Homo sapiens: one gene and its partners. The protein of the gene in region 1 interacts with the protein of each later gene in a pairwise test. Each region holds a gene or a part of one and is shown in the gene's direction. Other genes may lie near its edges. The genes, in order: KASH5, SLC41A2, TMEM14C and STBD1.

Region 1 (7,781 bases):
GTCGGGGTGGAGGGGGCAGAAATTACTGTCAGATTAAAAGAAGTAAGACATTTCAACCAAAAGCAATGATGGACCTTGTTTGGACCCTCAATCAAAGTAAATGTAAAGAAATCTCTGAGACAACCAAAATGAAAAAGGAGCACAGGCCCGGTGCAGTGGCTCACCCCTGTAATCCCAGCACTTTGGGAGACCAAGAAGGGTGGATTACCTGAGGTCAGAAGGTCAAGACCACCCTGGCCAGCGTGGTGAAACCCCGTCTCTACTAAAAATACAAAAATTAGCCAGGTGTGATGGCGTGTGCCCGTAATCCCAGCTACTCTGGAGACTGAGGCAGGAGAATCGCTTGAACCTGGAAGGCGGAGGTTGCAGTGAGCCGAGATCACGCCATTGCACTCCAGCCTGGGCAACAAGAGTGAAACTCCTCTCAAAAAAAAAAAAAAAAAAGAAAGAAAAAGGAGCACAAACTTTCTAGTATGAGATGATACTGAGTTATTGTTAATTTTGTTAAGTATGATAGTGGTATTGTGGTTTTGCTAAAGGAAATAAGTCCTCAAGTAGGAGATAAATGCTGGAGTAACTACAGGTGAACTAATATGATGCCTGCAATTTGCTTTAAAGTAATCTACTTAAAACATCTGGAGGAGAGCCGGGTGCGGTGGCTCACACCTGTAGTCCCAGCACTTTGGGAGGTGGAGGCAGGTGGATCGCCTGAGGTCAGGAGTTCAAGACCAGCCTGGCCAACATAGTGAAACCCCGTCTCTACTAAAAATACAAAATTAGCTGAGCGTGGTGGCACATGCCTGTAATCCCAGCTACTTGGGAGGGTGAGGCAGGAGAATAACTTGAACCCGGGAGGCAGAGGTTGCAGTGAACCAAGATCATGCCATTGCATTCCAGCCTGGGCAACATGAGGGAAACTCCGTCTCAAAAAAAAAAAAAAAAAAAAAATTAGCTGGGTGTTGTGGCAGGTGGCTGTAATCCCAGCTACTAGGGAGGCTGAGGCAAGAGAATCACTTGAACCCAGAAGGCAAAGATTGCAGTGAACCAAGATCGCACCATTGCATGCCAGCCTGGGCAACAAAAGCAAAACTCTGGCTCAAAAAAAAAAAAAAAAAATCTGGAGGAGAAACATCTCAGTTTAAACAAAACCGAGAAAATGCATATAATTATTGAAGCTGGGTGATAGATAATGTGGATAACAGGCTGCTTATATTGTTCTTTTGATTTTAAAATTGGGGATAAGAAATGAGTCAACACATGCAAAATGCTCAGTAAGTGTTAGCGATTATTAACCTATCTAATCTTTACAGCAATCCCATAAAGTAGGTCCTAGTTAAGCTCCGTTTTTTTGTTGTTGTTTTTTCCTGAGACAGTCTCGCTCTGTCGCCCAGGCTGGAGTGCAGTGGGGCGATCTTGGCTCACTGCAACCTCCGTCTTCCCAGTTCAAGTATTTCTCCTGCCTCAGCCTCCTGAGTAGCTGGGATTACAGGCACGCACTACCATGCCCAGCTAATTTTTTTATTTTTAGTAGAGACGGGGTTTCACCATGTTGGCCAGGCTGGTCTTGAACTCCTGACCTTGTGATCCGCCCGCCTCAGCCTCCCAAAGTGCTGGGATTACAGGCGTGAGCCACTGCGCGTGGCCTAGCTCCATTTTTATAGATGGGGGAGCCACACTCAAAGAAATTAAAGCTGTGGTCCCACTGGAATGGTTGGAGGAATTAAATGGGTTAAAACATATGAAGTGCTTAGCATGAGGCCTGATGTATATCAATCAAGTGTTTAGCAAATATCTGCTGTTAATTTTGACATTACCACTTGCTGGAATGAACGTGACCAGCCATTCCTTCTTCTAGAACGGGAAGCTGCTTGCCGAGCGGGATGGAGTGAAAAAGAGAAGTCAGGAGCTGGCCATGGAGAAGGACACTTTGAAGGTGCCACTCCTTCCTAGTGCCTGACAACTTTCCACCACCCCGGGGCCATTTTTCCCATTTCCGGTTTTAGTGACTGCAGCCTGATAAGGGCAGGGTCTTCCATCAAGCTGTCAGGCTCCCAGGACCACCCAGGCATCCCTAAAATCCCTGAAGTCCTGGAACATCTCAGGAGGCTGAATACGTGGGGGTGCGAGAGAACAGGTGGGGCCAGGTGGAGGGCAGGACCAAGGGGAGTCCTGGGAGGCTGGATGGATGGACCGGCTCCTTTCTTGGCAGCGGCAGCTCTTTGAGTGTGAACACCTCATTTGCCAAAGAGACACCATCCTCTCTGAGGTAAGGGGCCCCGGGAGGGAAAGAGATTCGCTTTCCATGTGCACCAGCCACTTCCTGCCCCTGGTCTAGAAAGGGAAGTCCTACTTGGGTCTGATCCTTGGATGTGCAGCTGGAGAGACTGGAGGGTTTCCCCAGGTCCCAAGTGTGACCCCTCAGGGATCTAGAAGCCCTTCTGCCCGGTGCTCTCCCTTGTGCCCCAGCTCTTCCCTCAAGCTCACCCTGTCCCTTAACCCCCCAGCCAGTCCCCCCGCCACCACCACCCCCAGTGTCTTTGGGGAACTGGTCCCAGTCTCATTTGGCTTTCGGCTTTCCTAGCGCACTCGCGATGTGGAGAGCCTGGCCCAGACCCTGGAAGAATACAGAGTGACGACGCAGGTAACTCAGCGGCCCTCGCCACCCACCGCGGCCCTCGCCACTTCTCTTTTGCCATCTCTGGGACTTGCTGCCTCTCCTCCTCGTGCCTCTTTGTCAGTGGCCACATCTTGCTTCTTCCATCCTTGATGTATGACTGTATGACTGCATGTCTCCCCCTCTGTTTCTGTATCTGCCTTTTCACTTTTTCTCTGTTCCTTCCATTCACTTTCATTCTCTGTGGGTGTCTTCTCACACACCTCCTCTCCTTATCTTATTTTTTTTTTGAGACGGAGTCTTGCTCTGTCGCTAGGCTGGAGTGCAGTGGCACAATCTCGGCTCACTGCAACCTCTGCCTCCCAGGTTCAAGCGATTGTCCTGCCTCAGCTTCCCAAATAGCTGGGACTACAGGTGCATGCCAGCATGCCCAGCTAATTTTTGTGTTTTTAGTAGAGACGGGGTTTCACCATGTTGGCCAGGATGGTCTTGATCTCTTGACCTCGTAATCCACCCCTCTTGGCCTCCCAAAGTGCTGGGATTACAGACGTGAGCCACCACACCCAGCCTCCCCTCCTTATCTTTATGTGTCTCTGCGAGGCTCGTGTGGGTTCCTGTCTCTGCCTCTAGGTCTAGGCTGTCTGTCTCCCTAGGCAAGTCTTCTCTGTTTGGCTCTGGTCTTTACCAGTCTCTTAGCCCTCATGTTTCTCTTGCCTGTCTGTGAGTCTGTTTCCATCTATGTCTCATTTTTTCATGCATCTCTGCCTCTGCCTTCCTTCTTTTAATTGTCTTGGCTGTGCTTTTTTTTTTTCTTTCTTTTTTGAGATGGAGTCTGGCTGTGTCACCCAGGCTGGAGTGCAGTGGTGCAATCTCGGCTCACTGCAACCTCCACCTCCTGGGTTCAAGCGATTCTCCTGCCTCAGCCTCCCAAGTAGCTGGGACTACAAGCGTGTGCCACCATGCCCGGCTAATTTTTTGTATTTTTAGTAGAGACATGGTTTCACCCTGTCAGCCAGGATGGTCTCGATCTCCTGACCTTGTGATCTGCCCGCCTGGGCCTCCTGAAGTGCTGGGATTACAGGCATGAGCCACTGCGCCTGGCCTCTTGGCCTGTGCTTTAGCTTCTGGATTCCTGTTGCTCTCTCTCTTTGGCTTCCTAACATTCTGTCATGGCTTTCTTCCCCTTGTCCCTAGGCAGTATGTGTCTGGGGAGCCCAAAGTAGTCAGGAAAGGGGAAAGAACCCTGGAAGAGGAGCCCAGAGGTGGATGGGAGGGTGGGAAAAATGCAGAGCCAAATGTGCTCCCCACTTCCTCCTTTGCAGGAACTGAGGCTGGAGATTTCACGCCTGGAGGAGCAGCTGAGTCAGACCTATGAGGGGCCCGATGAGTGAGTGGAATTTCAAGGGGTAGGAGGAGGCAGGAGGGGAGCCTAAGGGCAGGGACACCCTGGCCTCCAGCCCCAAGGTGGGCAGGGAAGGGAGGCCAGCATGAGCTGACTGAGTGGCCACCAGGCACAGAGGCCATCTTCCTCCCTCCTTCCTGTGTGGCCAGGCTACCTGAAGGGGCCCAGCTGAGAAGAGTGGGCTGGACCGAGCTGCTACCCCCATCGCTGGGCTTGGAGATCGAGGCCATTCGACAGGTGGGCCTAACACCCCTGGAATAAGCTGCAGGCCACCAAGGCAGAATCTCCAAACATCTCCCTACTCTGATCCTCACACCAGCCTAGCCCTAACCCACATTGCTGCCAGAGGCTCCTATCGCAACCTTAGCTTTTCTCTAACTCTCTCTACCTCGGATCCTAACCCCAAACCCACTGCCAGACCCAGGCCTGTGCCAGACCCCAGTCTGATCCAGCTTTGACTCACCCCTATCTCGTCTCCCTCCATGACCATCTCACTCCTTAACTTCATCTCGAACCTAGACCTTGGTCCTGGCACCAAATCCTCCCCTGTTCCTGCTTCTGCCCACTCCCCAACCCCAGCCCCACACCAGCCCTTTTCTATCTCTCATCCTATTTTCAGCCGCACACCTAAACCTATTTCTATCTCTGACCTTGTTTTCTACCTTAATATGGCTCTCCCTGACCTCGGAAACAACTTCTGTCCCAGAAACAGGAAGTGGCAACTGCTGATCTCTCCAACCCTCTGTGTGGGGTGTGGCAGTGGGAGGAAGTCATCCATGAGACCAGTGAGGAAACTGAGTTTCCATCTGAAGCCCCAGCTGGGGGACAGGTGAGCACAGGAAAAGCTCTGAAGTCCAGGAGCTGGAAAGGGGCCAGGAGCTCCAGGTGCCGCCCTGGCCAGCCCATTCACTCACACTTTTGCTTGTTCCCCATTTGATGAGAAAATGTTAATTGAGGGCCCAGTGTGTGCTGGACACCCAGCCACAAGCCAGACCAGACACCACCCCTACCCCAGGGACTGACCTGCCAGCGTTGTAGACAAAGGTGAACCAAGCAAACACACAAGTTGCACTGTGGCTTTTATTGTTGGTTTGTTTTTTAGAAAACACTCTTGGGAATTACATTATTTAAAATCGTACTACTGTAGGAAGGGAATAAGTAAGTTGTTTATTCCAGCATTTTAAGGATATATTAAGCATTTATGTTTCAAATGTTAGCACCTTTAAGAAAAGCCAGCAAGCTCACTATGACATCTTTAACTCAGCAATAACCATTGGGGTTTTTTTTGTTTTTTGTTTTTAGAGACAGGATCTTGTCTTATTCTGTTGCCAAGGCTGGAGTGAACTTGACTCACTGCAGCCTCAATCTCCTGGATAAGCAATCCTCCCACCTCAGCCTCCCAAGTAGCTGGGATTACAGGAACACACCACCATGACTGGCTTTTTTTTTTTTTTTGAGATGGAGTCTCACTCTGTCACCCAGGCTGGAGTGCAGTGGCACGATCTCAGCTCACTGCAACCTCCACCTCCCAGGTTCAAGCAGTTCTCCCTGCCTCAGCCTCCCAAGCAGCTGGGATTACAGGAACCTGCTGCCACACCTGGCTAATTTTTGTATTTTTTTTAGTAGAGACGGGGTTTCGCCATGTTGGCCAGGCTGGTCTTGAACTCCTGATCTTAGGTGATCTGCCCGCCTCGGCCTCCGAAAGTGCTGGGATTACAGGCATGAGCCACCATGCCCAGCCTTTTTAAAATTTTTTTATAGAGTTGAGATCTCACTGTGTTGTCCAGACTGGTCTCAAACTCCTGGGCTCAAACTGTCCTCCTACCTCAGCCTCCCAAAGTGCTGGGATTACAAGCATGAGCCACTGCACCTGGCTTTTTTTTTTTTAATTAATTAATTTATTTTGAGACGGTCTCACTCGCTTCTCTGTTGCCCCGGCTGGGGTGCAGTGGCATTATCACAGCTCACTGCAGCCTCAATCTCCCTGGACTCAGGTGATCCTCCCATCTCAGCCTCCCAAGTAGCTGCAACCACAGGCATGTGCCACCATGTGTAGCTAAATTTTCTATTTTTTGTAGAAATGAGGTCTCCCTGTGTTGCCCAGTCTGGCTGAACTCCTGGGGTCAAGTGATCCGCCTACCTCAGTCTCCTAGAGTGCTGGGATTACAGGCATGAGCCACTGCTCTGGGCTCTCTCTCTATTTTTTTTTTTTCTTTTAAAGAAAATGTTGTAAACAGCTCTATAAACAAGCTGTATTGTCTTGAGAACTGCACCACTTCAAAGCTCTTTGCCATCCTTAAGGAGAGACTCATTTCTCTGATCACTTTTTCCCTGGTTTGAGAAAAGCTTTTGTTTCTCTTTGACACCAGAGCTTGTTTGGGTTCTCATTTAACTCTCCCAGTATCTCTGTAAGGCAGGCATCCTCATCTTGTTACTCATGGGAAACTGAGGCTCAGGGAGAAATCACATGCCAATGGTCACACAGCTTGTTGGGGACAGAGCCTCATCCCTCAGAAGTGTAGGTTAGATTGGGCTTCTGCTTTGAGCTGTCAGATGCCCCTGAGAGACAGGCTTGTCAAGGGGAAGACTGAGCCAGGCCTCAGAGTGCAACCTGCGATGGGCCCAGGGATACAGAGCTGAGTCCCTTGGGGCCGGGCCTCTCAGTGCTCAAGGCCTGATAGGAGAGACCCTGCAAATGGGTTGCCCCAGTGCAGAATGATCATTGTGCTAGAGGTGGGGGATGGGCCTGTGGGAGCCCAGAGAAGGGGTATCTGTGTCAGGTCAGAGATTGGGGAAGATATTGAAGGAAAACTGATACTTGAGTGGAAGGAAGGAAGGAAGGAAGGATGGAAGGAGGGAGGGAGGGAAGGAGGGAAGGAAGGAAGGAAGGAAGGAAGGAAGGAAGGAAGGAAGGAAGGAAGGAAGGAAAGAAGGAAGCCAGCCTTTGAGGCACTAGCACAGCCTGTGCAAGGCCTTGGCATAAAATCACGATATGCTTGAGGAGTAGAGGGTAACTAGGGGTGACTAGTGAGAGATGAGGCCAGGGCCAGATCATGAAAGGAAATCTCTGACAAGCTAACAGATTGTACTTTTCTTCATAAAGCCACAAGAAGGGTGGGGTCAGCTCCGGGCTTAAAAAGATCCCTCTGGAACCATGTGAGGGACCTACTGGAGGCAGGGAGGAGGCTGGAGCAATGGTGATGAAGCCTGAGCCAGGCCAGGGCCCTAGGGATGGAGGAAAAGGGACAGACAGACATAATTGGGGTGGAGGGACAGAGCAGGGGTCAGACGGGATGTGGGTGATGGGGAGGGAGGAAAGGAGGCAAGACTTGGAACTTGTGACCTTGTGAGGTGAAATCTTGAGGGATGTCTGGGGGCTGCCTGGAAGAGTTGGGTGCACCATCCTGGAGCTCGAGGATTGCGTTTAGAAAACAATGGCAAGTTGGTTGCTGAGGTCAAGGGCAATGCCAATATGTCTCTGGAGAAACCGAGAGGTACTTGGGTCCTGAGGGAGAGCAGATAGATCCAGCCCAAGTCTGGGAACCTGGGATGAGAAGGCGGTTGGACAGGGAAATGCTGATCTCCTCTGGGACCCAGATAAGTGTACGAGATCTGTGGAACATCCAGGAAGTTTAGGCAACCGGGACTCCTGGGTCCTGTCAGGGAAGGGGGCTTGGTGGCATCGAGAACAACCCTTTGGTTTTTGGCTTCTGCCCTTAGGGGGCTAATAGGGCCATCCTCATGTAGGGCAGCACGAGAGGAGGG
Region 2 (7,823 bases), on another chromosome or scaffold:
CCTCCCGGGCTCAAGTGATTCTCATGCCTCCTGAGTAACTGGGACTACAGGCATGCACCACCAGGCTCGGCTAATTTTTGTATTTTTGGTAAAGACGGGGTTTCACCATGTTGGCCAGGCTGGTCTCGAATTCCTGACCTCAAGTGATCCGCCCACCTCAGCCTCCTAATGTGTTGGGATTACTGGCGTGAGCCACAGCACCTGGCCTGCAAATTTAATTTTGCTTCATCTCAACCACTTGATTACTTCACTACAGACACAGGAGACTCCTTGCTGTCTCCTGAACACAACATACACACTCCTGTCTTAGGACCTTTGTGCTTGCTGTACTTTCCCCAGGTATTATTACTGTTCCCTCACTCCTTTTTGTTCAAGCCATCAAGGTCTCCCTGGATTAGTTTATATAAAACAGTCCCCGCTCCTCTCCACACCTTCCCCACCCCGCCCCCAAACTCTCTAACTCTTTAACTCTATTTCTTTTCATAGTAGTTATCACCATATACCTAGATATATATATTTGCTTATTTGTTTATTAGTTGTTTATTTTCTTTCCCCATTTGAACATGAACTCTGTAAGGCAGGCATTCCTTTATGTTGTTCAATACTGTATTCCCAGAGCATAGGACAAAATGTGGCATTTAGCTAAGTGCTCAAAAAATATTTATAAATGAATGAATGATGATTTATATTTGGCACAAAAGAGGCCCACAATAGCTACCTGTTGAATGAATGAACAAATGAGTATTGCAGAGATTCCCAGGAAGGGCACTGATAATGGGGGTAGGGGCAGAAACTAGCACATGTGTCTGGAACATTGGCTGCATGGGCTGCATGTCCCCTGAATGATGGTTTTTCTCTAGTTCTTTTTCTTTGTGGGCATTTATATGGTTTGTGGGACCACTTTTAAGTAGGCCACATGGTGGTTCTTGAGCCTCAGTGATCACCAGAAATATCCATAGAGATTCTTATTTAATGGGTCTGAGGTAGGTCTTGGGAATTTGAGTAACTTTGAGCAAGGATTTAACCCTCAGTTTCCTCGTATGTAAAATGGGATTATAACATCATTTTATAGAGTGTCAAGATTAAAGAAAATCATCTGTGCGAAGTGTCTCACACATAGTAAATATTAGATTCCCTTTGCTTCTGCTCAGGTTTTTGTTTTTGTTTTTGAGATGGAGGCTAGCTCTGATGCCCAGGCTGGAGTGCAGTGGCGCAATCTTGGCTCACTGCAACCTCCACCTCCCAGGTTCAAGTGATTCTCATACCTCAGCCTCCTGAGTAGCCGAGACTACAGGTTCACGCCACCACACCTGGCTAATTTTTGTATTTTTAGTAGAGATAGGGTTTCACCATGTTGGCCAGGCTGATCTCCAACTCCTGACCTCGAGTGATCCACCTGACTCAGCTTCCCAAAGTGCTCGATTACAGGCATGAGCCACCACACCTGGCCTGCTCAGGTTTTCTCTGAAGTTTAGAGGTTAAATCTTATGAACAGTTCATATTATGTGCTCTCCTAAAATTTAGTTTTGATTCACCTCAATCCAGATCTCTACTCTGAGTTGCAGTTTTTCAAACATAGAGTCAGTATCTTCATTTGAATGTCTCATAGGGGTATCAAACTCAACATATATAAAGCAACTCAAAATTGTCCCCTTCTGATCTCCTCCTCCACATTTCCCAAATCAGGAAATGGCATAAACTCAAATTAGAAACTTGGGAGTCATTTTTTGACACTTTTTCGCCTTTACCTTCCATGCATTTGATCAAATCCTTACAGTTCTAACCCTGACCTATATCTTCAATCCACCATCATCTCCTAATCTCCATTGCCTGCAAACTGGTTGTCACACATCCTCTGTTGCACCCTTCTTATTAATTCTCCACTCTGCAGCCGGAATAATCTCTTTTTTTTTTTTTTTTTTTTTTTTTTAAGAGACAATGTCTCACACTCTGCTGCCCAAGCTGGAATGCAGAGGCACGATCATAGCTCACTGCAGCCTCGAGCTCCTGGGCTCAGTCAGGTGCGTGCCACCAAGCCTGGCTAATTTTATTTTATTTTTGTAGAGATGGGGGTCTTGCAATGTTGCCCAGGCTGGTCTCAAACTCCTGGCCTCTAGTGATCCTCCCACCTCAGCCTCCCAATGTGCTGGGATTACAGGTGTGAGCCACTGCATCCAGGATCATCTTTTACAAATGCAATTTTTCATGTCCAGATAGGACCTTTTCAACTCTTCATTGGCTTCTTTTGTCTTTAGGATTAAATCCAAAGTCCTTAACCTGACCCTCAAGGGCCCGCCCACCTCTCCCTCCCAGGTAGCTCTCTCAGTCTAAGCACAGTGGCCTTTTCCCAAAGCCTTCACAGACAGAGCCTCTTCCTACCAAAGGGCCTTCAAACCTGCAGTTTCCACAGCTAAATGCACTGCCCACCCCACCCCCTTCTCTATGTTGCCTGCCCTAACTCCTCCTTATTCTTCAAGGCTGAGATTAAATGTCACTTCCTCCAGGAGATCTTTCTTACCCCCTAGCACAGACACGCTCCTTTGTTATACACTCTCATAACTCTCAGGCTTTTTTCCAGCAATCACAACAGCATCACCACACAGCCTCAAGTCCAAGCCACTTGCTTCACATTTGAAGTTGCCAGCTGTCAGACGGGAGATGAAGTAGAAATGGGATTGTTGTTGTCTGCACCCATTAGGACCCAGTTTTTTACAAGGGGGCATTTCCTCGCCCGATTCCAATGTGAGTTATTTTCAGGGCTGAAATTTGATTTAAATTTGGATTCCAACTTGAAGCTTAACATATCTCCAAAGTACACACTACTTTGCGGTACTGAATGAAGAATGTAAGTAGAAGGTTGCCTGCCACATGCCATGTAATGCTCTGAAGGACGGTAGAAACCACCAGCTCTCTCAGAAAAAAATGGTGGAAGAATTTTCAAAACCAAGACAGGCTGGCTTCTGTATATGCTTTGTGTAGAAATCTTGAAAGACTACACACTCAGGGGAGGAACACATATTGGGTGGAACTTCTGCCAAACTTTCAAGAGCAGCTACTTTCTAATGATCTGTAATTCAAAAAACAACCAGAACAAAAACCAGCTGGAAATGCAGTCAAAACACTGCTTTTCCATATTCCTTGCAATTATACTTTCATTTTTAGGTGGTGAGGAACACCAGGATGAGTCATTATAAAAAGCATGACTGCAGATGGCCAAGAGTGATACCGAAGCACCCTTCACCCTGAAGGTTAAGGTTAAAGCTCAAAGTCTGATCGCAAAGCATAAGGAAAAAAAAAAAGAACATGGATAAATGTATGCTGGTGTCCTTCAGCACCAGAAAAGCTGCTACTAAATCACTGGTGTGGCTTGGAATTGGTAGAAGCTTTGATTTGAGGAAAAGAGTATCATTAGCTGTGTAATTTTGAGTTGTTGTTTTAGAGACAAGGTCTCATTTTGTGGCCCAGACTGGAGTGCAGTGATGCGATCATAGCCCGCTGCAGCCTTGAACTCCTGGGCTCAGGCGATCCTCCCACCTCAGTCTCCTAGCCACTCCAGGTCTCGCTGTGTTTGCCCAGGCTGGTCTCAAATTCCTGGCCTCAAGCGATCCTCTCGCCTGGTCCTCCCGAAGTGTTGAGGTTACACGCATGAGCCACCAATCCTGGCATTATGGCATTAGCTGTGTAATTTTTAAAATAACTGTCTTCGGACCAACACCTTTCTTTTGTTCACTGGAGTATCCCTGGGGTGTGTCTCATTCCCTGAATCATACACAGTAGATGCTCAATAGTTTTGTAAATAAAATAAATGAGCTCTCGGATTTACATGCAGACTTTGGATCAGTTTGATCTAGGTTTAAAAGCAAGTGTGGGGAAACTTGAAAAGCCTGGCACCCCAGCCAACTCTTCAGCGCCCCATGCGCTTGGCGCCTACACCTGCCTGGCACGGGGAGGGTGCTATGGGGCTGCCCTAAACCTCACCCCCTCCTGCGGTGGTTCCTGCCCGTCTCGGCTCCTGCACCGCCCACACTATGCGCTGCTGGGCCGAAAGACACGTGGTTCGGTTTTAACTCCAGTCTGCAAGAAACATGACCTCAGCCAAAAAGAGGCCGCTGGTCTGAGAAGAGAAATCATGAGTCATGGATTCGGGGGTTCGGACCTTGGAGCAGGCGGTGAAGTGGGCGTGCGTGGGCTGGTGGGGAAGAGGGATGCCGAAGGAGGCCACAGCCCTTCTCTCCTGGGCAGGCTCCCCAGAAAACTGCCCCCTTGCCGTCATCCAGCGCCCCCGTTCCCGACAGCTGTCTGCCAGGGCGCGGCCGGGGTCCGGGCGGGGCGGTGCTGTCGCTCCGGGTCGCCGCCCCGCGGGCCACATCACCAAGGCCCGGGCTTCCCCGGCGGCGGCGCGGCTGCGCTTGCGCGGGGCTGCCGCGCGGGGGCGGGGCGGCGGGGAGTCAGGGGGCCGCGGGCGCCGACGGCCGGGCTGTCAGCTTGGGGCCGCAGCCGCGCGAGGAGGCGCGGGAGCAGGAAGGAGCTGTGGGCTGGGAGCCGCTGTCCTCCCCGCCACCACCGGTGCCGGGCACCAGGTGAATGCCCCTTCCATCCCCCGCCCCTGGTGTCTCGGTCTGGTCTGAGGAGACGGGGACCCTTCTCACACCGGCCGCTGCCGCCGCCGCGCTCCGGAACAGGTGACCATGGAGGGGAAGTCTCGGCTTCGGCCGCGGCGCCGCGTTCGGGCGCATCAGGTGCGGGAGGGAGGTGGGGCCGAGAGGCCTGGGCTCGGGACCCGGCGGCGGGGGCGCGGGGAGCAGAGGGAGCGGCCCCGCCCGAGCAGCCGTGCCCCCTGCGGACGCCTCTCCGGGCCGCCGGGCAGCGCCCGAGCCCAGGCCCCCGCGCCTGCCCCACCTCGGGCTGAGGGAAGCTGTTCCGCGGCCACCGCGGACAAGCGGTCCCGGGCGCCCAAGGCAGGGACAGGCGGCGGGTGGTGTATGAGTGATGGCTGAAGGTGAGCTGGGATGGAGATGCTGCGAGGCTGGCTCGGGCACACCCCAGATGCCTGTTCAGGGCTCCGCGAGTGCCCCGTCACCCTTTTCTTTCATTCTTCTCTTTATATACACGGAGCATATCTCAAATTTAAAAGCCCAAATGCTCATTTACAGAGAGAGATGACACATATCTATGTGTTACCGATATACATTGATGTGTATATTACGTATATATGTCATCTTTTTTTTGTAGTGACAATTTTTAAATTGAGATATACATCACATGCCATAAAACTCATTCTTCTAAAGTGTGGCTTTTAATATATTCACAGAGTTTTCCAAATATGACCACTATCCAGATCATCATCCCCAAAAGAAACCCTGTCTCTCTTAGTAATCACTCCTCATTTCCCCTTGACCCCACCCCACTAGCCACCACTAATCTACTTTCTGTTTATATGGGTTTGCCTGTTGTGGAAATCTCATATAAATGGAAGCGTACAATATGTGGCTTTTTGTGTCTGGCGTCGAAAGACATACTGTAATGTTTTCAAGTTTCACTCATGTAGTATGTATCAGTACTTTACTTTTTATAGCATATTAATATTGTTGTATCAGTGTACCACATTTGTTTATTCATCAGTTGATGTACATTTGGGTTGTTTCCAGTTTTTGGCCATTGTGTGTAATGCTGCTATGCACATTTGTTTACACGTTTTTGTGGACATGTGTTTTCAGTGCTCTTGGGTATATACCTAGGAGGGCAATTGCTCCGTGTTTCACTTTTTGAGGAACTGCCAAGCAAAGCAGCTGTACCATTTTACTTTCCCACTAAGCAGTGTATGAGGGTTCCGATTTCTTCACATCTTCCCCAAGGCTTGTTACTTTTTTACTGGTTATTTTTTATGATAGCCATCGTAGTGAGTGTGGAATGGTATCTCTTTGTGGTTTTGATTTGCATTTCTCTAATGATTGGGGATGCTGAGCATCTTTTCATGTGCTTATTGGCCATTCATATATTTTCTTTGGAGAAAATGTTCATATCTTTTACCCATATTTTAATTGGGTTGCTTGGCTTTTTATTTTTATTTATTTATTTATTTATTTATTTGGAGACTGACTCTCAGTCTGTCACCCAGGCTGGAGTGCAGTGGCACAATCTTGGCTCACTGCAACCTCCACCTCCGGGGTTCAAGCGATTCTCCTGCCTCAGCCTCCCAAGTAGCTGGGACTACAGGCACACACCACTATGCCCGGCTAATTTTTGTATTTTTAGTAGAGACGTGGTTTCACCATGTTGGCCAGGTTGGTCTCCAACTCCTGAATTCAAGTGATCTGCCCACCTCGGCTTCCCAAAGTGCTGGGATTACAGGCATAAGCCACCACGGCCAGTCTGGGTTGCTTAGCTTTTTATTGAGTTTTATTGTTCATTTATGGAAAAAAATTTCTGTTAATAGGTTTGGATACTGGCACTGACTTGAAAAAATCCAACCAATCTGATACCGAAAAACTTAATGCTTATTCTTGGGTAAAGGTTGAATAAGTGCCACTTCATTCTTTAAGAATACCCTACCTGTTCATTCTGGACATCTTACTGACCCCTTTACATTTACTGCCCTGGTATTTTGAGCAAAGCTACAGAAGGCATATTCCTGACTGGAGTCAAGAGAGACCACCCTTAATTGGTATTTTCATATATTCTATGCTCAATTTGAAAATCCCAGTTATCACTTTAATTACAAAAAATTTATATTAGTGGCCAGCTGAACAAACTAACAATAAATGGCAAGCACAAATCACTCAAAAATTTATGTTTAACTTCTCAGTAAAGTGGAGAATCTTGTTTTCTTAAGTTTGTGCAGTGTAGTTTTTATTACAATTATGTTCATGTGTGGGTGGTAAATAAATATTTTTGATGGCACTAAAGTTAAGAGCCACTTACAGCTAAATGAATGCTGCTGTGCTTATTTCATGGTTAATTTCCGAGCGCACACAAATTCAGCATCAGGTCTTTCATGGCCAAAAAAAAAAAAACCACTAAAAAGACCTGATGTTACCTCCCAGGAATTCAAACTCAATTTTCCACTGATCTAATATGATTGTTGTTAAAGAAAAAGATTATTCGATGATACTTGTTAAAATGTGGTAAAAAAAAGTCTATTCAGGACCATTGTGATAGGTAAAGGGACCATGGAATGGGATTTTGCAGTTTGGGAGGAAGACTAGGCTCAATTCTGAATACGGTGTGGGCAAATGGGAATTTATAGCCAAGGAGCAGTGTCATGGTCAGTGGACAGAAAAGTACTGAGAGGAAACACCGGGGGTAGTGGATATTCAGACCAAACCAACCTAACAGGATTCTTGCTGAAGACAGGCCAGAGTGATCAGACACCACCTGGGGGACAGTGGAAGCTGAGGAACCTAATCAGGTTGTGAGGGTAATCAGGTAGCGAGGGTAATCAGAAAGCGAGGGCCAGCTGGGTGCAGTGGTTCATGCTTGTAATCCCAGCACTTTGGGAGGCTGAGGCGGGCAGATCACCTGAGGTTGGGAGTTCGAGACCAGACTGGCCAACATGGTGAAACCCTGTCTCTCCTAAAAATACAAAAATTAGCCTGGTGTGCTGGCGGGCACCTGTAATCCCAGCTTCTCAGAAGGCTGAGGCAGGAGAATTGCTTGAACCCAGGAGGTGGTGGAAGTTGCAGTGAACCGAGATCACGCCACTGCACAGAGCAAAACTTCGTCTTAACTCAAAAAAAAAAAAAAAAAAAAAAAAGCAAGGGCCAAGAGTCAGGGGCTGTTGCTAAACTCACTTGACGAGGTTCTTTGATAAAACTGCATTTTAC
Region 3 (7,780 bases), on another chromosome or scaffold:
TTCTCACAGATGGAACAACGGCAATAGCACACTTGAACAAAGGAAAAGCAGAGGGTTTACACATTTGGGTCCTCCTTACTGCTGTGTCCTGCATGCATTGACTGGTGCTGGACCTCGGTCTTAAATTTCCAATTTGCTAACAACCTGAAACTTTCCTAAATAGTTAGGTGCAAGGGAGGATAAAGGAGACTAAGTTGCTTATGAAAGGTTTAAGGAAATAATAACATTTCCAAATAAGGAAGGGGCATAAAATATGAGCTGAGACTTGCTTGGGCCTGTCCAGACATGCCTGAATAAGCCAAAGCAACTAACTGGGCTAAATCGTAAGAACTAACAGTTGATAGCAGGCTTTGGAGTAAGATGTGATTATTCCTGGTGTCTATTTTTAAACCAAGACAAGGTTTGAAGAGAAGCTTTTCTACTTTCTACAACAGCAAAACTCCATCTCAAAAAAAAAAAAAAAAGCAAAAACCATGCTACAAAGGCCAGCAAAGCAGCTCATGCCTCTAATCCCAGCACTTTGGGAGACTGAGGTGGGCAGATGAGATTAAGAGTTTGAGACCAGCTGGGCCAACATGGTGAAACCCCATTGTGTCTGGACTTTGTGGGTTCGTCTTGCTGACTTCAAGAATAAAGCCACAGACCCTCATGATTGAATGTTACAACTGTTAAAGATGGTGGGTCCAAAGTTTGTTCCTTCCGACATTCAGACATTATCTAGTTTCTTCCTACTGGTGGGTTCACGGTCTCACTGATTTCAGGAATGAAGCTGCAGGCCTTTGCAGTGAGTGTTACACCTCTTAGAGGTGGCACATCTGCAGTTACTTGTTCTTTCTGGTGGGTTTGTGCTCTCTGCTAGCCTCAGCAATAAAACCACCAACCTCTGCAGTCAGTGCTACAGTTCATAAAGGTGGCACATCCAGTTTTTCATCTGCTTTCAGTGGGTTTGTGGTCTCACTAGCTTCAGAAGCAAAACTGTAGCCTTATCACGGTGAGTATTAAAACTCATAAACATTGCACGGATCTAAAGAACTATCAGCACCAACATTTATTGCAAAAAGCAAAAGAACAAAGCTCTGTCAGCCCAAGAAAACACCCAAGCACGTTTCCCCTACTGGCTGTGGGTGGCCAGTTTTTATTCCCTAATCTGGCCACACCCACATCCAGCTGATTGGTCCATTTTACAGAGTGCCGATTGGTGCATTTGCAAACCTTTAGCTAGACACAGAGTGCTGATTGGTGCGTTTACAATCCTTTGGCTAGATACAAAAGTTCTCCAAGTCCTGACCAGATTAGCTAGACACAGAGCGCTGATTGGTGCGTTTACAAACCTTTAGCTAGACAAAAAACTGCTGACTGGTGCATTTACAATCCTTTAGCTAGACACAAAAGTTTTCCAAGTCCCCACCCGTCCCAGAAGCCCAGCGGGCTTCACCTCTCGCTGGGAGTTGGGTGGGACTTTTTGGCAACTAGCCTGGGCACTCCGGGAGCTCCTCCCACACAACCAAGAGGAAAAGAGGAGGAGAGAGACAGAGACCCGCCATCGTGGCCAACGACCCCGCCAAGAGGGAACGGCGGTCCACGCACTGGACCCAGCCTCCGATCAAGCCCAGCAGGGGCCGGCAGGTCGCGCCAAGTGCGGGGCCCACCGAGCCTGCGCCCACCTGGAACCCGGGGCAGCGCAGCCCCAGTCCCCGCCTGCGCCTCTCCCTCCACGCCTCCCCACGAGCAGATGGAGCCGGCTCCGGTCTCGGCCAGCCCCAGGGAGGGCCCCGCACAGCGCAGCGGCGGGCTGAAGGGCTCCTCGAGCCTGGCCGATGCTAAGGAGGCACCGAGAGCAAGCGAAGGCTGCTAGTGAGAGGTGACGACGTGCTGGCAGTCCTCAGAGCCCTCGCTCTCGGCGCCTCCTCTTCCTGGGCTCCCACTTTGGAGGCACTTGAGCCCTTTAGCCCACCGCTGCACTGTGGGAACCCCTTTCTGGGCTGGCCAAGGCCAGAGCTGGCTCCCTCAGCTTGCAGGGAGGTGTGGAGGAAGAGGCGCGAGCGGAAACCAGGGCTGCGCGCGGCGCTTCCGCGCCAGTTGGAGTTCCGGGTGGGCGTGGGCTTGGCGGGCCCCGCACTCGGAGCAGCCGGCCGGCCGGCCCTGGGCAATGAGGGGCTTGGCACCCAGGCCAGCGGCTGCAGAGGGTGTACTGGGTCCCCCAGCAGTGCCAGCCCACCGGCGCTGCGTTGGATTTCTCGCGGGGCCTTAGCTGCCTTCCGACGGGGCAGGGCTCGGAACCTGCAGCCCGCCATGCCTGAGCCTCCCACCACCTCCGTGGGCTCCTGTAGGGCCCGAGCCTCCCTGATGAGCACCACCCCCTGCTCCACAGGGCCCAGTCCCATCAACCACCCAAGAGCTGAGAAGTGTGGGCGCAGGGCGCAGGACTGGAAGGCAGCTCCACCTGCAGCCCTGGTGTGGGATCCACTGGGTGAAGCCAGCTGGGTTAAGTCTGGTGGGGAGGTGGAGAACCTTTATGTTTAGCTCAGGGATTGTAAATACACCAATTGGCACTCTATATCTAGCTCAAGGTTTGTAAACACACCAATCAGCCCCCTGTGTCTGGCTCAGGGTTTGTGAATGCACCAATGGACACTGTATCTAGCTACTCTGGTGGGGACCGTGGAGAACCTTTATGTCTAGCTTAGGGATTGTAAATACACCAATCGGCACTCTGTATCTAGCTCAAGGTTTGTAAACACACCAGTCAGCACCGTGTGTCTAGCTCAGGGTTTGTGAATGCACCAATCCACACTCTGTATCTAGCTACTCTGGCAGGACCTTGGAGAACCTTTGTGTGGACACTCTATAGCTAATCTGGTGGGGACGTGGAGAACTTTTGTATCTAGCTCAGGGATTGTAAACGCACCAATCAGCACCCTGTCAAAACAGACCACTCGGCTCTACCAATCAGCAGGATGTGGGTGGGGCCAGATAAGAGAATAAAAGCAGGCTGCCCAAGCCAGTAGTTGTAACGCACTTGGGTTTTCTTCTATGTGGAGGAGGCTTTGTTCTTTCTCTTTTTCTTTTTGCAACAAATATTGCTGTTGCTCGGTGCTTAGGTCCTGTGTTGTCTTTACAAGTGGTAACGCTCACTGCGAAGATTTGCAGTTTTGCTCCCAAAGCTACGAAGACCACGATCCCACCGGAAAGAACAAACATATTCCAGACGCACTGCCTTAAGAGCTTTAACATTCGTTATAGAAGTCTGTAGCTTTGCTCCTTGAGCCAGTCCAAAGCTAGGGAGACCACGATCCCACCGGGAAGAACAAACAATTCCAGACACACTGCCTTAAGAGCTTTAACATCCACCACAGAGGTCTGTAGCTTTGCTCGTTGAGCCAGTGAGACAGCAAACCCACCAGCAGAAAAACTCCCTGAATACTTCTAAACATCGGAAGAAAAACTCTAGAGACACTGCTTTTAAGAACTAACACTCATCGCGAGGGTCTGCAGCTTTCTCAAGTCAGACCAAGAAGCCATCAATTTTGAACACACTGGCACGTTGTGATCTCTCACTATCTCCACTAAAAATAACAAAAATTAGCCTGGCAGCCAGGGGTGGTGGTACAGGCCTATAATCCCAGCTACTCAGGCAGCTGAGGCAGGAGAATCAGTTGAACATGGGAGTCAGAGGTAGTGGTGAGACAAGATCATACGCTGCACTCCAGCCTGGGCAATAGAGTGAGACTCCACATAAAAAAAAAAAAAACTTGGCTGGAATTCGCTTTATTCACTGACAATTATATTGGTCAGATTTGTGTATGTTGATACTTGTAGGGGATGGAGAGGGAGAAGTCAACGATGACAGCAAATTTTAGTGTAGAGCAACTAAGAGAATGGTGGTGCAGGAAACGGAATAGGAGTGACTCCAAGTGGGAATGGAGATAATATGCTGTGGATATTTTGGGTCCACAGAGCTGGGTAAAAATCAGGTTTAACTTACTCCCCATCCCCCTTTAAGATGCTTCTCAAGCAGCCTCACTCCCTAAAACAAACGGATATTTGGCTTTGAGCCACATTATTCTGCAGCCCCCGTATTTTCTTCCAGGCAGGCCCTTCCTGGTGTAGACAAGATCGGGCTTGAGTGACACTCCTCCCTGATGGCCTGCATCTGGTTTATACCCTGTAACTTGTTCCTCTATTAATGGGGTCCTTCAAAATCCAGCCTCAGATTCCCTGGTCCCGCAGCGGTGGCCTCACCTCTGGCGTGGCCGAGCTCACGTGGTCCGGCTTGTGCAAGTCCCAGGTCCAACTCCGGGTCTCCTGCTTTTGGCCACTCAGGATTGGACCTGGGACTGATACTGGTCGGCCCTGCAGGCGCTGCGGACAGGGGAAGCACAGAGATTCCCCGCCGCGTTCCCTGGACTCAGGAGCTCGCCGCGATGCCCCGCCCCACTCTCCACCCGCTGAATGCAGGGCGCATGCTGCTACTTGGCGGCTCAAGCCCCGCCCGCACCGTCCCCATTCTCTGACCGCCCCTCTCCCGGTACACTGCGCAGGCACAACAGAGCCGCTCCCCTCTCCTCGCCCCGCCACCGGGACGGAGAGCGCCCGCCGCTGCATTTCCGGCGACACCTCGCAGTCATTCCTGCGGCTTGCGCGCCCTTGTAGACAGCCGGGGCCTTCGTGAGACCGGTGCGAGTATTTGGGGATTATTCTTATTTTCTGCCACTTTTAACTTTTAGGGATTATTTAGGAGTTTCACGGCCGTCTGCTTTTCGTCCCCCCGATTCAGCGGGCCTTCAGGCCGTGTGGTCGGTGCTTTTCTCGTTGGGTATTTTCTGCTTTTAAAAGAAGTTGTGGATGCGCGGAGCCCCTGGGCTCCTGAGGCAAAGGCTTACCCATGTAGCATAGTGTTGCCTCGTTTCTTGGTGATTTTCTTGCTCCATCTCTTTAAAAGCCTCCCTTACTCGGTGCCGTCTCGAGTTAAGAACTGTGGGCAAGATCCCAAGCCCGCTGCCCTTCCCTGTTTTATGGAAACTTAATTCTTTTTTTTTTTTTTTTTGTCCTTGAGGGAGGGACTTGCTCTGTCGCCCATGCTTGAGTGCAGTTGCCTGAATATGTCTCATTGCAGCCTCTGCCTCCTGGGCTCAAGCCATCCTCCCACTTCAGCCTCCCAAGTAGCTGGGATTTACAGTCGCATATCACCATGCGCGATTAATTTTTTTATATTTTTTAGTAGACAATGGGTTTCACTATGTTGGCCAGGCTGGTCTTGAACTCCTAACCCCAGGTGATCCGCCCGCCTCGGCCTCCTAAAGTACTGGGATGACAGGCGTCAGCCACTGCGCTTGGCCTAATTCTTTAAACAGAATAAACGGGGTATGCATTGCTTTCATCTTTTGGCTCACTGGACACAGGATACTTTCTGTAAGAAAATAGAAGCTGTTTTTCCAAGGGTGTAGTGTCACATGTGAATATGACCACTGTTTCCGTATATTTTATCCTCTCCTACTACTGCCCTCCTAACAAGAACTGTGAGTTGGACGCAGAAGTTTCTAAAAAAGTTGAGCTTTGAAATTGGCTGTTGCAGCAGGGATGAAAAGCAACACCCCTACCTCCCCTCAAAAGAGACATTAAAGTAGTTGGATTAAGGGCACGGGAGTATTTGCTTTTGAATTTAGTGATAACATGGGTAGCTGATGAAATGACTAACACATTCCCTGATTTTAGAGCTGGTCAGTGGATCTTGCTGAGTTTCCCGTGGGCCTATGTGATTAAAACTGAGGTTTTCATGACAATGGTCAGCATCTGTTCAGGGTTTACTAGGTGCTAAGCACCTTTACATGTGACATCCATTGAATGCTCACTACAGCCCCAGGAAATCGGTACCAGTGTTATCCTCATGGTACAGTGAAGAATACTGAGACTTAGGTTGCGTAGCTTGCAGGTTGGACACACTTCTTTCTGACTGCTGGAGAGCTGTGCTTTTAACTACCTCTGATCCAGCTTGTTTTCTGCAGGTGCAGGCCTGGGGTAGTCTCCTGTCTGGACAGAGAAGAGAAAAATGCAGGACACTGGCTCAGTGTGAGTGCAGTAAATGGGTATGGAGTAGCCAGGAGCTTCTGGAAACCAGAGTTCCTTTCCTTAGCTGAAAAGAACCTTAAGAGTAGACTGCCTGGGATGGCATGGGGGATGGGAGGATCACTGGACCTGTGGGCCAGAAACTTGGGTTTGAGTCCCAGCTCTGGCTTTGCTGAGTTGTGTGACTCTCAGAAAGTCATCCAACCTCTGTGGTCCTTATTTTCAGTGATAGGACCTGTGGGGAATGATTACCTTTTAGTCCCATCCTATGACAGTATGGTTTGTTTTCAAAGCCAGGTTAGCACTGACTTCTCCCTCTTGTGTTTTCAGAGTGCCTTTGCATTGGTTTGGCTTTGGCTACGCAGCACTGGTTGCTTCTGGTGGGATCATTGGCTATGTAAAAGCAGGTAGGGTTTTGTTGTTACTTAGCCTCTTAACATCTTCACGTTGTCCCAGTGAAATGTGAATGCCCGTGTCCCTGAGAAGCAATCTCATTTGAGTCAGGTTTGCTGTGGGTCCCCAAGCTGGAGTGCAGGCTTCCTTGTCAGTCTTGCAGCTCCTGCCCTTGCCCTTTGGTTATCTGGTGAAGCTGAGCCAGGCCTCTTTTGGAATTACTTGTTTTTGCCTCTTTATCTACAGATAGGCAGGGGCGGTTGTAGTTTGTTATTATCGTTGACTGCCATTCATCAGCCACGACCCCCAAGTGCCATCTCTGGGCTCAAGTAGGAGGAAACCTCTGGCCTACACAGACTGGTATTTTGAACTCTCCTCGTTAGGCCAGGCAGGGGTGTGTCAGTGGCTGTGCTTGTGTTTGCCCCCTAGTCCTTGCCTGCATTCCCACCCCAACCCCTGCACCAGAATTCTTCTTCTCCAGGTCTTTGTATTTTTTTAATTGACTGGCCTTATCTCCTTCTCCTTTTGTGATTTGCTGGAGGTCCTGCCTGTACACAATTCCAGTCCTTCATGGTTGATCAGGCCTGATTAGAAAGAAGGCCTAGCCACAGTTCCATCTAAGGAGGGAAGATGGCCTTCTTTCCTTTCCTTAGATGGAAGTGCCCTGCCTATTAGAGGAGAGAAAAATGGGGTGGGAAGACCCTGACTTCTCTGAGAAGATAGCACACTCTCTGTAACGTCTTCCTGCTTGAGTCCACCTTGGCTATGAGCTGTGTTGAGAGTTCTCTGTGCTGTCCTCCTTTGTAGGGCAGCGGTCTGGGGGATTCCGTTAGTGAAATAAGTGCCTGACATTACAATGCAAGCTGTGTTTGCTTCCCTCTAGGCAGCGTGCCGTCCCTGGCTGCAGGGCTGCTCTTTGGCAGTCTAGCCGGCCTGGGTGCTTACCAGCTGTCTCAGGATCCAAGGAACGTTTGGGTTTTCCTAGGTATGTCTGCTTTGGCGTCTCCTTAGGGCAGCTATGTATCCAGAATACTCTTTTCCAAAAGACCCTGGTTTGGTGGGATGGGGTGAGTTCTTCACACTTCACTTACGACAATTTCACTGCTTCTACCAAGTCCTCAGAAAGTTTTAAAATGAGGGTGCAGAGGCAGGAATTATGCTGGTTTCTGTTTATCTTTTACATACAGAACATGGAAGGATTTTCATAGCTCGTGACTATATTTACCCAGTAGCATTAAAATTCTATCAGGCAAATGTATCAACCGTTGAGGTTGCCCACTGAAGACCTTTGGCTTCAGCATCACTAAACTATCACACGTCT
Region 4 (7,732 bases), on another chromosome or scaffold:
AGGATGAGATAATCTTTATAAAGCACTTAGCCTGGTGCCTGCATATTTTAGTTATTCAATAAACAAAAACAATAAAAAGAAGGCCTATTAGATGATAGCCTTGACATTCCAGGGAATAGAAAGATGTCCAAGCTGTGACCAGCAAGGGATTTATGATCTAAACTAGGGATGAGACAAACCTCAAAGATACTGATACCATAAGAGAAAACCTGGTGTGATCGAAAGGATCCCATTAGGAATAACAAATCCCAAGGGTTCTACGCTCTCTGTGCCAGCAACAAAAGGACAAGACCAAATCTCTTTCTTATTATACCCCACTGTGGAGAGGCAACAGGACTATGCAGAGACACCTCTTCTACTGGCCATGTCTTCTCCCAGTGGTCATTATCTACTTTCTCTGCTTTTCTTAAAACTCCAGCCAGATTTTCTTTCTCCCACTCAGCTGATAACCTCATTGACTACTTCCTTTGTGGCACAAAATGTCTCTTATTTTCATTCTTTTCTTTTTTTCATGCCCTTCTAATCTCTTTCCTTCATTGAAGGCCAATTCTTCCACTGGCATTCCTGACCCATCTCCCTCTTGTGCCTTATGAAAGTCCAATGAAAAAATATTTCCTCTGCTTCTCATGTCTTCAAGCTCAGTCTCCACTGGCTCTTTCCTGCTCCCAATCGTGCTTAAATCTCTCTTGGTTTATAGGAACTGCCCTGAGTCCTGGTCTATTTCTTTTCTTTTTCTTTTTGGGGGGGGGGGGTTGGTGGAAGGTGGGGGGGGGGGGTCTCCCTGTGTTGCCCAGGTTGGTCTCGAACTCCTGTCCTCAAGAGATCCTCCCACCTCGGCCTCCCAAAGTGCTGGGTATCCTGTTCTATTCTTAAGCAACCCTTCAATTTCTCTCCAACCTATTGCCTCCACGTTTCTCAAGAGAGAGATAACTCAATGCTGGACTTCTTATCCTTTCACAACATTTATATCTTAGCATTCTGAAATCCAACTTCCACCCCCACAAACACTCCAGAGCTACTGATGGCCTCTTATGTGCCAATTGCAACCATTTTCCCTTCAGTTCTCTATCAACTTCAGTTCTGCAAAGCAATGCCTCCATTCCCTCTCCTGGCCACCTTCTTGAACTGCTTTTCTTATCTGATTTTGGTTCTCCTTCTTCTCTGGCTCTTCCTTCCCACAGTCTTTAGTCTCTCTGACTTTGCAAACAGAGTTGCTTTTCATTGTTCTGTCCTCATCCCTCTAAGCCAGGATTGAGCAATCTTTTCTTGCATAAGTTTAAAGGAAAAAATATATAATAAAATAAACTTTAAAATATCCATCTATATCTATTCATACTTTATTAAATAGAATAATATCAATTAGAAAACGGGTTCTACATTATGGCCCATAAAATATAATCTCAAGACAGAATTGCAATATAAATAGCAACATGGAGGCAACTTCCCAATCTTTCTTCTTGCAATTGTGTCAAGGGCTCATCCATCCTTCATTTCTCTTTATAACATTAATCTTTACTATGGATTTAATTACCACATCTCTATGCAGAATTTCCAACATCTCCAGCCTTGATCCTCTTAAACTAAAGAAACCGAGTTCCAACTTCCTGCTCGTGCCTCCAATTTAACACGTCCCAGCAGAACTCATCATCTTCCTCCTTTGTCCGCACAACCGTTCTTGCCTTTTTTGCTCCCTGACAACACTATCTTCCTAGGCACTCACAGTTTTCTATATGGAGGCAAACATGATTGTTTTGCAAGTGTATAGCGATAAGCATGGGTATCATCAGTGCGGCAAGAATGTTTTTAGGATATGTGGCTATGAACCTTTAATATAAACATATGACTATGATTGGAGCATTTTTTAAAAGAGCAGCAACACAGAAATTAATGAGCCAGCACTTAAGTTTGGAAAAGCCAAAAGGAAGGCCAAATAATGTTCTTTAAAAATGTTGCATTAGCTTCTTGGGATTCCCAAAGAAAAAAGTAAATTAAAAAAAATGTTGCATGATCAATATGATACAATGTAAAAATAATTCTGATGGGTTGAGAAAATAATTTTTGGTATTATTTTAAATAAATGAATGGACATTTATGACAGCAATAAATATTAAGAGCCTTTTAGGTATTATAAGTGAATAGTGGGGCTTACATCTGAAGGATTTTACAGATTCTCTGGGATTTTTATCCCTTAGACAGGAGTCCCCAGACCTTGGTCTGAGGCCTGTTAGGAAGCAGGCTGCACAGTAAGGAGGTGAGTGGTTGGCAAGTGAACATTACAGCCTGAGCTGCACCTCCTATCAGATCAGTAGCGGCATTAGACTCTCATAGGAGCACAAACCCTATGTGAACCGCACATGCAAGGGATCTTATATTTTTATCAGATTTTTTGAGACAGTCTCCCTCTGTCACCCAGGCTGGAGTGCAGTGGCATGATCATGGCTCACTGCAGCCTTCACCTCCCAGGCTTAAGTGATCCTCAGCCTCCTGAGTAGCTGGGACTATAGGCGCCACTGCCTTGCCCAGCTCATTTTTGTATTTTTCCATAGAGACAGGGTTTTGCTATGCTGCCCAGGCTGAAAGAATCTTATTTTATACAGTGACATTCATTCTCTTAAAAATATAGCTTTACGGTTACTTTTTATTATACATAAAATGAATTTCAAGGAACGGTAATATCCACATGGGCTAAAAATGCATATGGAATCTACGTAAGAAAAATGCCAATAATGCTCTAGGGTGAAATTACCTGGGGCTTTTAATTCATTCATTCAACCTGTACTTCTAAGCGCTCACTCCGGAGAGGTTACAGGTGCTAAGAATTCAGCAGAGAACAAAGGACAACCATCCCCGCTGTCATTTACACTCTGAAGGGAGGAAAGAGAAATTAAACCACAGACACACAGATTATAGAGTGTATTAGAAATGACGCCCTAAGTGCTAATGAGAACAATGGAGCAGGGGAAGGATATAGGGAGTAGGATTGTAATTAAAACTGGGATTGTCAAGGAAGGGCTGGGCAGGGGAGGGGGTAGTGGGGATGCAGATGACACTTGTGCCAAGACCTAAAGGGGATGAGAGAGAGAGGATGTCTGCAGGAAGGATGACTCTAGGCAAGGAAGCCAGTGTGGTTGAAGGTGGCAAGATGGAGATGAGTGCACAGTGGTCATGGGGAACAGATCCTGTAGGGTCTTAAAGGTTCTTCCGTGTGATCTGGAGCAACTGGAGGGTCTTGAGCAGAGAACTGGGGTGTTTTAACAGGATCACGCTGACTGGTGGTTTGAAAGTGGCCTGTGGGAGCTTGCTGTGTTTTGTTTTGCAGCAATGGGAAGGATGTGGTTGCCACTTCCTGAGATGGGGAAGGTGGGGAGAGTAGTAGGTTTGGGGAGTTAGGTGGGGAGTTCAGGTCTGGATGAGTTGGGTTTGAGATGTCTATTAGACATCCACGAGGAGATGCCCAGTAGGCAGTCTTCGCCCTCACCTCTCCTCTACCTCCTCTCTTATGATTACAGAAGTTGTGGCCTGCATCAAGGCGTGCATCAGCCTTCCAGTAACCCCACTGGCAGAACCTTGCACCCCGTTAAGGGCTACTGTCCATTCGGAGCAAGGGGCACATTAGATAATTTGCCCTACCAGAGAGAGCAATTATAGCAATTACTCCAAGGCAGGTGTTTGGTATCTGTGGCCTTTAGCAGTTGAATGTCGGAGTCCAAGGGAAAGGTGTGAGCTGCAGACATAGACGTGGGGATCATCAGCTTGAAGCTGTTGTGCAAAGTCATCAGATCAGCAGAGGAAAGGATTTACAAAGAAATATATATAACACCGCACAGGGTTGTTGTCTTGTGAGGATTAAATTAAATACACACTTAAAACATCCGGAATACAGACAGTGCTTAATAAAGAGCTGCTGTTTTTATTAACAAACTTATCTGTAGGAGCTCGTCCATGGACAACATCCAGTTCATACAGATGCGTGCGCATTTCGCAGCAGCCATACACGCCCAAAGAGGACGAGACTGGATGTGATTGAGCTGACTGGCATCTTTAGATGGATGGTCCTCAGTCCAGTCCTTCCATTTTACAGGCGAGGAGGCGGAAGCTTGGGGAGGCTAAGCGCGCTGAGCTGGCGGCGGAGCGGAGCTTCCACTAGGGCTCCCAGTTTCCCCGCACCGCGCCCGCCGTCCTCCGGGCCACCCATCCCACCCGAACGCGCCACCGCTCTAGCCCGCGCTCCAGCCCGCGCGTCACCGACGCCCGCGGCCTCTCCCACCTCTAAGTTCCAGGAAGCTCTCGGCCTCTAGCTGACCGCGTTGCTGCTGAGCTTCCCTGGGGAGAAGGCGCCGAGGTGCCCGGTGCGGGCCGAGGCAGGGCTGGGCCTCGCGGGCAGCAGGCGGAAGAAGGAAGGGCGGTGGGGCAGGTCCCGGCTGCGCGGGGCAGTTGTGCGCACTTGGGTTCTTCACGCGGGACACACGTGGAACGCCGACCCCTGCGCCCCTGGCCGCTGGCAACTGGCAAGGCCGGGAACAGAAAGTGTAGGGACAGAAGAGCGCTGGAGTCTTCCCCGGGAGGGAGCCCGGGGCTGCAGCCCAGGGGCGGGGAGCGGGGCGGGGCTGGGAAAGTTGAGTACTGGTCGCTCAGGGCCGGGCTCCGCCGGAGTGCCCGGCGCAGAAACCGTAAAAGGCTGGAGCGGGCGGGGTAGGTGTGGCTCTGTGTGCGTGACCTGAGCCCCGGTCCCAGTCCCTGTAGTCTCCTGCGGCCGCGGCCTCTCAGCCATGGGCGCCGTCTGGTCCGCCCTGCTGGTTGGAGGGGGTCTGGCCGGAGCACTTTTCGTTTGGCTGCTGCGGGGCGGCCCTGGCGACACCGGGAAGGACGGGGATGCGGAGCAGGAGAAAGACGCCCCTCTTGGGGGAGCTGCGATTCCGGGAGGCCATCAGAGTGGCAGCAGCGGACTGAGCCCTGGACCTTCCGGGCAGGAGCTGGTCACCAAACCAGGTATTCTTCCCCCCGTGACTCCAGGGCACATCTGCCAGAGCTTTGAGGTTCATCGAGGAAGGGAGCAAAGAGACAAACCCACCTGGAGCTTTCCTAGGGGCCCATTCCTGCGGACGGGCTCTCCTAAGGGGACTGGGCCATCCCCACGCCCCTCGGTTTCCCAGGCTGGTTGGTACGCGCAGGCAGGTTTCTTGTCTGGTCCTCCAAGGGCCGCGCCCTTGCCGAGTCCCTCAGCGCCCGCGCCTGAGGACTTGGTCCTGCCCCTCCGGCGGGGATGAGCTCCTCCACTTGGCGGCGCTTGGTGCAGTGCGGGCGGCTGCAGTGGCGGCGCCCCTTCCCGGCCTTTGGAAAGGGGGGCTTAGGTTTAGGGGATCCTACAAGCCTCTTCGATCTCTGCCCAAGCAGGGACATTTTCTAAGTCCCAATCCGGGTAGTCTGACATCCTCCCATCGCACAGCCCATGAAGAGCTGGGTTTGGGAACACCCGAACTGCGGGCGCCTCCTGCTATCTGGATGCTTCTTTAGGAAGGCAAAGTTCAGGTTGGACTCTGGCCATGAAGGCTGTGGCTGAGGCCCTGGGGATGTGCCTTGGTCACCCCTTTCAGCACTGTCGGCAGTCCCCTCCACGCTGCCCCAGAATAGGGCCGGATAGTCATCCCTAGGAAGGGACTACTTAAATAGGGGACCCAACCCTGATGAGTAGAATTGACATCTGGGTTTAAATTTCTGTATTTTAGGGACCGTTTGCTAAGCAGAGAGCGAACACTGGCAGAAAAGCTTACCGTCCAGTGCCCTCCCTTGGCAAGCTGCCCATGCCTGGACAGAAGCCTAATGGTGAAAATGACATCTGTGAACTTTATTTTTAGCCCAGTGGTGTTCATGTGCAGCCATATGAAAATCTGCCCGTGTGCCTTTACTGTGATTGGTCTGGGATGCCTAGACAGTTCACTTATCTTTTTTCTGAAGACCAATCTCATGCTTTAGGTTGAAAAGTTGGGAATCCAGAATAATATTTGTTCATTCTCACTTCCAACTCCCACCATCACCGAGGCGGGCAAATCACAAGGTCAGGAGTTCGAGACCAGCCTGGCCAATATGGTGAAACCCTGTCTCTACTAAAAGTACAAAAATTAGCTGGGCGTGGTAGTAGGCGCCGGTAGTCCCAGCTACTTGGGAGGCTAAAGCAGGAGAATCGCTTGAACCCGGGAGACAGAGGTTGCAGTGAACCGAAATCGTACCACTGCACTCACTCCAGCCTGGGTGACAGAGCGAGACTCCATCTCAAAAAAAAAAAAAAAAAAGGGATAAAATGAAACAAGACTGTTGTCCCCATACCACCACCACCCCCACACCACATAAAACCACAGCTGTGCTGATTGTATGTATGATTTGGAGATTTCAATCTTGTAGGGAGCTATTTGGACTACCAATGGCATGGCCAAGAAGGAAACTGCATTTTTAGAGGACTTGGATTTTGTATTTTTAAGAACGTTTTTTAAAAAATGCTTACAATGGAAGGGGATACAAAACACCGTTTTGTTGGGGAGGTTCCTAACGCATATGGGATTGGCAAGGAGAAACCAGCCCCTTCCCCCAGTTCTCCCTCCACTCCTGCCCAGGGAAGCACTACTGTTCTCCGTATCTCCCCAAGGTGACAGCTCCTGCTGATCTGCCCGCAGGTCTGCGAGAGCCAATCCCTGCCCTGCATGCCTCCCCTGGGAGAACAAGTGTACTCTTCTGGTTTGTAACGTAGCCACGCAGCCCTTTGCCCCACAGCCTGGACAACATTCTTTGATGATAGGAGCCAAGCAACTTAACTTGGCTGCATGCCAGTATGGCCTGGACTGTGGAGACTGGGGACCATGGGGGGGTTACACGTCTGCCTCTACAGCTTACCACTTCATTTACACTTGTGCTGGCACACTGATACTCCTGGATGTCCCTTTTGTTGTCAGATATACATGTGTATTCTTAGAGCACAGTGTTGGGAGCATACTGGTTAATTAAGTAGTACTTGATTTTAATAGAGGGGGACTTTGTGAATTGCAGATTGATTAGTAGTAAAGCTTTCAGTAACTAAATCTATTTTCTCAGCCTGACTTTTTTCTTAAATGAACTACCTGACTCTATTACATTTTTCCTTTGATTTCTTAGAGCATCTTCAAGAAAGCAATGGACATTTGATTTCTAAGACCAAAGACCTTGGTAAACTGCAAGCAGCATCATGGAGATTGCAGAATCCTTCCAGGGAAGTCTGTGACAATTCAAGAGAACATGTTCCTTCTGGACAGTTTCCAGACACAGAAGCTCCAGCTACCTCTGAGACCAGTAACTCTAGGAGTTACTCTGAAGTTTCAAGAAATGAAAGCCTTGAATCTCCTATGGGAGAATGGGGATTCCAAAAAGGACAAGAGATATCTGCTAAAGCAGCTACATGTTTTGCAGAGAAGTTGCCTTCTAGCAACCTGCTCAAGAACAGAGCTAAAGAAGAAATGAGCCTCTCTGATTTGAACAGTCAGGACCGGGTTGACCACGAGGAGTGGGAAATGGTGCCTAGGCACTCATCTTGGGGGGATGTTGGTGTGGGTGGCAGTCTTAAGGCTCCAGTGTTAAACCTAAACCAGGGAATGGACAATGGAAGAAGCACTTTGGTGGAAGCAAGAGGTCAGCAAGTGCATGGGAAAATGGAAAGGGTAGCAGTGATGCCTGCAGGGTCTCAGCAAGTTAGTGTCAGGTTCCAGGT

The links.
Region 2: the proteins of KASH5 (region 1) and SLC41A2 interact in binary tests that used the Homo sapiens proteins (3 or more experiments, as listed by UniProt).
Region 3: the proteins of KASH5 (region 1) and TMEM14C interact in binary tests that used the Homo sapiens proteins (3 or more experiments, as listed by UniProt).
Region 4: the proteins of KASH5 (region 1) and STBD1 interact in binary tests that used the Homo sapiens proteins (3 or more experiments, as listed by UniProt).

The regions. Positions count from the first base shown.
Region 1 is NC_000019.10:49,405,031-49,412,811, forward strand, and holds part of KASH5 (protein KASH5), read left to right. Parts: intron 1-1,855; coding exon 1,856-1,933; intron 1,934-2,209; coding exon 2,210-2,266; intron 2,267-2,581; coding exon 2,582-2,641; intron 2,642-3,936; coding exon 3,937-4,001; intron 4,002-4,165; coding exon 4,166-4,253; intron 4,254-4,722; coding exon 4,723-4,845; intron 4,846-7,781. UniProt on the Homo sapiens protein: As a component of the LINC (LInker of Nucleoskeleton and Cytoskeleton) complex, involved in the connection between the nuclear lamina and the cytoskeleton.
Region 2 is NC_000012.12:104,954,947-104,962,769, reverse strand, and holds the start of SLC41A2 (solute carrier family 41 member 2), read left to right. Parts: upstream 1-4,479; 5' UTR 4,480-4,682; exon of another isoform or gene 4,683-4,739; intron 4,740-7,780; exon of another isoform or gene 7,781-7,823. UniProt on the Homo sapiens protein: Acts as a plasma-membrane magnesium transporter. Can also mediate the transport of other divalent metal cations in an order of Ba(2+) > Ni(2+) > Co(2+) > Fe(2+) > Mn(2+).
Region 3 is NC_000006.12:10,718,565-10,726,344, forward strand, and holds the start of TMEM14C (transmembrane protein 14C), read left to right. Parts: upstream 1-4,505; 5' UTR 4,506-4,677; intron 4,678-5,991; exon of another isoform or gene 5,992-6,005; 5' UTR 6,006-6,049; coding exon 6,050-6,069; intron 6,070-6,396; coding exon 6,397-6,473; intron 6,474-7,342; coding exon 7,343-7,444; intron 7,445-7,780. UniProt on the Homo sapiens protein: Required for normal heme biosynthesis.
Region 4 is NC_000004.12:76,302,001-76,309,732, forward strand, and holds the start of STBD1 (starch-binding domain-containing protein 1), read left to right. Parts: upstream 1-4,732; 5' UTR 4,733-4,769; coding exon 4,770-4,989; intron 4,990-7,143; coding exon 7,144-7,732. Other genes in the region: FAM47E-STBD1 (uncharacterized protein LOC100631383), read left to right, coding at 7,144-7,173. UniProt on the Homo sapiens protein: Acts as a cargo receptor for glycogen. Delivers its cargo to an autophagic pathway called glycophagy, resulting in the transport of glycogen to lysosomes.